Homo sapiens: one gene and its partner. The protein of the gene in region 1 interacts with the protein of each later gene in a pairwise test. Each region holds a gene or a part of one and is shown on either strand. Other genes may lie near its edges.

What was found. The genes of interacting proteins can lie anywhere in the genome.
Region 2: the proteins of DACH1 (region 1) and SOX3 come close enough for resonance energy transfer, tested with the Homo sapiens proteins (one large-scale study listed by BioGRID).

The regions. Positions count from the first base shown.
Region 1 is NC_000013.11:71,437,466-71,440,835, forward strand, and holds the end of DACH1 (dachshund homolog 1), read right to left. Parts: intron 3,228-3,370; coding exon 3,190-3,227; 3' UTR 501-3,189; downstream 1-500. UniProt on the Homo sapiens protein: Transcription factor that is involved in regulation of organogenesis. Seems to be a regulator of SIX1, SIX6 and probably SIX5.
Region 2 is NC_000023.11:140,502,485-140,506,485, forward strand, and holds SOX3 (transcription factor SOX-3), read right to left. Parts: upstream 2,586-4,001; 5' UTR 2,577-2,585; coding exon 1,236-2,576; 3' UTR 501-1,235; downstream 1-500. UniProt on the Homo sapiens protein: Transcription factor required during the formation of the hypothalamo-pituitary axis. May function as a switch in neuronal development.

The DNA of each region.
Region 1 (3,370 bases):
TTCCAAAGATAGAGATCAAAAGCAAAACACTGAGTTAGAGTTACAAATCTCCACTCATAGATATGGGAATAATATATTTTGTTCCATCAACATGTCTACTTTGCATTATTCAGCACAAAGCTTTGTGAAATAAGAATCATGGGAATATAAGAATATAAAGAAAAAAGGTACAAATAACAGCTTCATAAACTGAGAAATGTACATAAATAAATCATGTATATGTGGGCAGTTTGCTTAGCTGGCAAGAAACAAAATATGGAAAATCTGCTTGTTAAACAATAACTACAGAGTGTGCTTTTATGATGTTTTTCACCACAGTAATTCATATTAGAGATAGAAGCAGTTGCATGTTAAATAAAATCATTGAGCATTGTTCCCCTTGCATTGCAAAGAGCTGACTTGTGTTGTTTTTAGATGCCTCCCATTAGAAAGTAAATATTCCTTCAATGCTATGCATTTCACAAAATTTAATAAAGATGAACTGTAAATAAAGTCACAGGGAGATTTCAGACAGTTTTATTAGGAGATTGTTGAAAAGGAAAAGAAAATTAAATACAATAACAGTAAACGTGGTTCTCACATTGAAACCAGGCTCAAATAACTAGGCTACCATAGAAAAATTTCCAATTCTTGCATTATGATGTAAAAACAGATTTTTGTACAGATTTTGTACAACAAAATTCGTAATAACCTTTTATCATTTTTAGAAAACTTTAAATATATAGATAAAAATAGACAATTTTCATAGGTCCTACATGAAGATGAGTATGTTCTGTTCCAAGGGCTTGCATAGAGCGCAAATGTGGTTATAATATAGAACAACTAGACATTAATATTTTTAGGATTACAAAAGCATGGAAACCATAAAATGGGCACATTTTACTTGTTTATGCCAAAACACAAATTTCCAAACCAACCTGTATAACTAAAACAGGGAAAAAATTAAGTTACAGACTTACAATAACATTTCATGAATTGTAATATTTACAACATGTTAGTAAGAGTCTCTCTTAACATACAGCTGATAGCTTTTTTCTTTAATCCTTGCTAAAATTTCCTTTTATTTCAAATCAAACACTAAAGCATTCTCAAAGGTCTTCAAATATGTATTTTAAAACTATTTAATCCACATAACAAACAGGTGACTCTATGCCAGGAGCAGAGCAATGGCTGATTCTACTACATATGTAAGTTGTAGGCTTTTTTAAAAATCTTTCAAAAAATGTATGATGCAAAAAGCTTGACACAAGTCCATTCAATTTTAAGTGTTGTAATCCTTTAAAGACTGCATATAGGGAAACAAACACATAGAACTAGGAAAAGAATCCCTTGTGCTCAAACAACAAAAGGTGGTTATGGAAGAACTATGCTTAGAAAACCAAGTTTCTACAAATCATTTACTAGCAATACTTTAAATAAAAATAATGCTCCCTTTGTAAGCAAGCTAAAATAGGAACTGTACATATAACCTTTTTATGGTATTAAAAAGATGAACTTAGCTGGCTAATAGTGAGCTACACAAAAGAATTATGTTCCAGTATTGCAAGGAAGACCTAAAAGGTATAGAAGCGTAATGCCAGAGTATCTATAATGTTAATTTTTTCTTAATCAAGTAATTAATACCCAATCAGAACTATATTTAAACATTTTAAGCTAGTTTTCTTAGACATTGAAGATTTTGCTGTTTTGTGGTAATAAATAATGTTACGATCATACAATTTTAAGATGACAGAAAAATCATAAAATGTATAGTGACCGTACTGATTCATATCAGTCTTTAAAGGTGTAATTCCAGATATGCAAAAAACAAAGAGAAGGTAACTTTAGCATGTAATAAGCACTGTTTGCCGCTTTACTTCCAGTTATCTGCACGAAAGTGAAAACACATACTGTAACTTTCAAAAAGACAGTGAAAATAACACATAGCCACCCTTCCCTCTGACAAGGGTGGGAAGCACAGCACATTTTAACTTTATCACTCAGCGCTACATGGTATTGGACTGGTACATCAAGGTTTGTTAGGTTTTGTTTTCAGCAACATTAACATAATATGACGTTAACATATAAAAATATTTCTGGTGTTTTGATTTGCTGTTCAGCCACAATCCATTCCCAATAGTGCAGCTTGGGGCACTAGCTAGGGTTCAATATACAAATAAAAGTGGCTGACACAGAGTTCTGATGTCACCAGATGCTTAAGATCTCATTCATTAATACTGTGACTCCAGACAAATATTTACATGCCTGCATGCGTTAAAACCAGAAAGACATCTTTCTGACCAACAGGGTGACAAAACATATTTTCTAAAATTTTCATTTTCCTAAACTCTAGTATACTACTGCATACATAATACCTTCCTTGTGTGTTTTATGTTTATATACTGTACATATGACCAACAGTTTGAATAAGAAGCAACATTATTATCTTTAATTCTACATACCACTACCAGTTTGGAATGAAAACATGTTACACTTATATATTTTTTTTTATTTTTAAGAAAAAAAAACCTTCAGTGAAAGCTTTTGGCTTATATTCAATGCTTCTTTTCAGATATGCAAAATGTTATTTCATTGGGTTGTTGTCAACATCCATTTGTTGGTCTTTTGGAAAGTATGTGAAAAAAAATTCTTCAGGAGAAAACCCACAATTAGAGAGTTTGAAATTGAATGTAACAGAAAATCACTCTTGCATTTTTTTTTTTCAAGAATCCTCTATGCCCCCTACAAGTTCATTCGTTCATTCCAAGTGTTCTTGCTGGTTTCTGGAGGACATAATTCTGTAAGTCTGGGTAACCACTGCTACAAGAGTCTCTTGATGTGCTCAGATACAGAATTTTCAGAAGAGGAAAATGGTTCATTCCATTAGAAAAAAACAAAGCTAGGTCTTATTCAGACCTGCCTTTAACTCTGTATACAATTGTCCAGCAGCAAGTTGCAGTAATTAACTGTAAGAACTTTGATACTTGTACATTTACAAACATTCTCAGGTCTCTGGTATGAACCACAGGTGAAAATCAATGGAGAAAACTTTTTTTTTTTTTGTAGAATACTTAAACTTTTAAAGAACATTAATACACAAAATTCAGGAAGTTCCCTTAAAAGGACTTTATTTTTTTCTGAACTTTCCCATGACGAATGTCTGACTGCAAAGTTCTTTTCTATAACATGGATTTCTTCAACAGGAAAGATTCAGTACATGACAGTAGTTTTCAAATACAGTCTTCCATCTAGAAATGAACAGTGAAAAATTAATTAATGGCATGGTATTTGGGGTACAAATGTGCATGTAAAAATGATGTAACTTGATATAAAATTTGTAGTTTTTATTAGATCTTTACTTGGTTAAGAAGTAACATTTTTCATATCTTCT
Region 2 (4,001 bases), on another chromosome or scaffold:
ATCCCTGTAACCATTTATTTTTAATAGGATCATCGAGATTTCCGAAGGGTTTTCGTTTTGTAAATATTTCAGCTAGGCTCAAATGTCTTCCCGCCCCAGTGCACAAAGGTAAAAGTGCCCCGTTTTTGGTCGGTTTCAGCGGCCGCGCCTTTCCAGCCCCGCCTCGCGTGGCTGCGGCAGCAGACACTTTCAGCAGACGCTCACTGCGATCAACAAGTGCGCGGCCGCGGGCTCTGCGCATTAGCTACTACTGTGTGCCCGCTCTCGGGAGACGCTCCTGGAAGACTCGGAACTCTGTTCCGAGTTTCAGTTGAGAATATTGGAAGCTGGTGTATGGTGGATCACCAGTAGTTAAAAGGAAACCATTTCAGATTATGCTTGCCTCCCCCCAGGTCCCACCCCGCCCCTAGGATGGGATCTCAGTTGTAAAACCGAGTGTTGGTTCCTCCCCAACCTGCAAAAAAGTTTCAGGGCCGCAAAATTATCAGGACTCCATCATGTTGGTTATAAAATTTATTGATCTCATTTAGGAATTAAGAGTAAAAGCTTGAAAACCCTGAAACAAAGTAGCCCCTCCCCACTACCCAAACGAAATCTGAACACATTAGCGCGAAGAAATATCAAACAGATCACGGCAGAAATCACCAACTCAACATGATTGGACAGAAGCTGTCCCGCGGCCAGGGGCGGCGAGGCGGGAGACACACGCACACCTGGCTATAAATTAACATTGGCTTTAGCTGCCGCGCTGCTTGGAGCGGTCAGCGCCCCAAAAAACCACGAGGAAAACAGACGCGACACGACTGGGGGCGTAGGCGTTGCAGTTCTCCAGCTGGCCTCACCCGATACTATGTTTCTCCCATTCACTCCTTGGCTAACTGCAAACTAACAAGACAACATTTTCAAATGTAACAGAATAACCCTGGAACTCAGGAGGAGGAGTGGGGGCTGTTTTTTCTTTGCAAATAACACAGCGATTCCCAGCCTACAAAGGTGAAAGGAGCAGCGGCGTGGGGCAAGAGAGCTCTCTAGAAGTCCCATTTTCGCTGCTCCTGACTTATTTTTGCTTTTGTACAAAACCCGACAGCTACAGCAAAACTTTCAGCCCTCCCCATCATCGGTACAAGGCAACAGTCCCAGGCAAGCAAAGCTAAACAAGGCGTCCCAACTTGGGGGTGCGGGGCGGGAGTGGGGGTGGGGGTGGGGAACAAGGGTGGACGAGCGCAGGCCGGTGCTCAGATGTGGGTCAGCGGCACCGTTCCGTTGACTGCAGTCCCGGCGCCCTGGTAGTGCTGGTGCACGCCGTGCAGGCGACCGCCGGGCAGCGGAGAGGCGGCGTCGGCCGCGTCCCCGCCGGGTGGCAGGTACATGCTGATCATGTCGCGCAGGTCGCCGAGGCACGCGCGCTGAGAGTGCGATGCGATGGCGGGCGGCGGCGAGCTGGGCTCAGACTTCACTACCGAGCCCATGGGGCCCAGGCTCATGGCGGCTGCGGCCGCAGCTGCGGCCGCGGCGGTGGCGGGCTGCTGCCCGTAGGCGGCGGCCGCGGCTGCTGTGGCTGAGGGCGCCATGCCCCCGTAGCCCGAGGCGGCGGCGGCCGCGGCAGCGACGTTCATGTAGCTCTGAGCGCCGGGCGGCATCATTGGGCTGTACTGCAGGCCGGCCATGTCGTAGCGGTGCATCGGCGGCAGCGCGGGCGGCGGCGGCGGGCTGCTCATGCTCGGGGGCTGCGCGTAGCCCAGCTGCTCCTGCACCAGCGAGTACGCGCCGTTGGCCCAGCCGTTCACGTGCGTGTACGTGTCCAGGCGCTGGCCCACGCCCACCGGACTGCTGGCGGCAGCGGCTGCGGCCGCGGCAGCGGCGGCGGCGGCCGCGGCACCGGGAGGCAGGAGGCCGCTGGGCAGGGAGTACTTATCTTTCTTGAGCAGCGTCTTGGTCTTGCGGCGCGGTCGGTACTTGTAGTCCGGATACTCCTTCATGTGCACGGCGCGAAGTCGCTTGGCCTCGTCGATGAATGGTCGCTTCTCGGCGTCGGTCAGCAGTTTCCAGTCGGCGCCCAAGCGCTTGCTGATCTCAGAATTGTGCATCTTGGGGTTCTCCAGGGCCATTTTGCGCCGCTGCCCGCGGGACCATACCATGAAGGCGTTCATGGGCCGTTTCACACGGTCCTGGTCTGTACCCCCGCCACCTCCGCTCGCACCACCGCTGCTGCCGCCGCCCGAGTTCGCGCCGCCGGCTGCGTTCGCACTACTCTTGCCTGCGCCTCCCGGGGCTGCGGGGCCGCCGGTGCCCGCCGCTTGTGTGGGTGTCCCTACGGGGTTCTTGAGTTCAGTCTCCAGAAGGCTGTACATTGCCGGGGCGGGAAGAAGGTGCGCCAGCGTGGCGGGAGGAGAAGGCGCTCCCGGGGCTGGAGCGGCCACGGTGAAAAGGCCCTGGGACTCCGTCGGAGCGGAGCTTGGGGGCCTGTGGGCCAGCGAGTCCGGCGGGAAGGGTAGGCTTATCAAAATGCTCCGCGCCAAATCAGCAGGAACCCGCGGGCTTCTCGCACCTGATGAGTTCTCTCGAACAGGTCGCATTCACAGTCTGCCTGGGCTCTAGCTGGGCCCCTTATATACCTGCTCGGATTCCCCGGGGTTGGGGCTTGGTCCGCCCCTCGCAACCCGGAGGACCCGTGATTGACAGGTTCGCAGTGATGCGCCCTGGCCAATCATTACCGAGCCCCCGTTCGGCCTGGCTGGAAAAAAAAAAGTTCGGGGAGCCCTTTCGTTCACCCCACGCCCCTCTTTGGCCTAGTGACGTGGTAAGAGTTACTTAGGAGGCGGGAGTCCACGAGGCCCACTCAGAGGCCACCAATTAGGGTTTCAAAAAGTTTGAAAGAACGAAACCTGAGGAGGTGACGGGGGGAGGGGGGAGGGGGCACGCAAGCAGATTGGGGGGAGGGGGCAGAGGGGCGCCTTCGGAATTTAGAAAACAACTTTGCAACCCTGTCAAGGCAGACCGGCGCCCCATCCCCCGGCCAGCCCGCAAAGCTTCCCGTTGTCTGCACGGAGGTTTTCTGGCCGCTTCTGCTGCCAGCGCTAGGAACGCAGGGCACCACCAGCTACCCAGGCCGGCTTAGGGACTCCAGGCTCATTGGAAGTGCTCCTGGCTGCGTCTCCAAGAAGCTCTCCCTGGAATTGGCCGCTGGTTGTCCAGATCTTTCTCTAGGAGGGCCAGTGCGTCCAGGACGCAGCGTGGGTCAGGGGCCCGGGCATGGGAGACAGGCTTCAGGACTGCGGGGTGCATTCGGCTGTGAGGCTCTTGGGGGTTTGCAGGAGGGCGGGCAAGCAGTCAGTCGCCCGTCTCCTGAGCCTGTCGGAGGCGCTCGCACAAGGTGGTGTGGAAAGTATGTGTGGGACGTAGGGGGTGAACTGGCCTCCGCTCTCTCGATCCTGGCCCCCGCTTAGCGGCCCCTTTTTGTCTCTGCTCTGTGGCCATTTCGGTTTTTCCAGTCCGATGCCCCTGAGGGGGAGGGTCGGGCCCCTTGGAAAATCCGTTTTCATGGCAACACGGAGCCTCTCAGAGTGAAAGAAAAGTTTCTTGGAGGGGGGAACGTTGGCCGGAGCGGAGCCGAGGCCGTCCTCCGGGCGAACCGCCGGGCCCCCTCCACTGCCCCCGCACCTGCCGGGACCGCTGAGCGCTACTCTGGGCGCGCAGCCTCGCCGCCTCCCCCGGGAGCAGGCTCTGCTAACGGATTCCGTCCGTCTCTTTTATTGTTTTAGAGACTTCCTGAGATTCGGAGCGGGACATTCACTTGCTTGTTGGGTTATCTGCCAAAGACTAGCGGCGCGGGAACTCTGGCTGCGGGGAGAGGAAACCCCGATAATCGCCACTGCCAGCTGAAGCGAGTGGCACAGCGTTTGAAACTCTCGGAGCAGCCCGAGGTAGCGAGTGGGAATGAGAAGCCATCCCGGCAGATTTGGCAGAAACTAAAATAAGGTGTCCATACGGTGTGGGGTCTC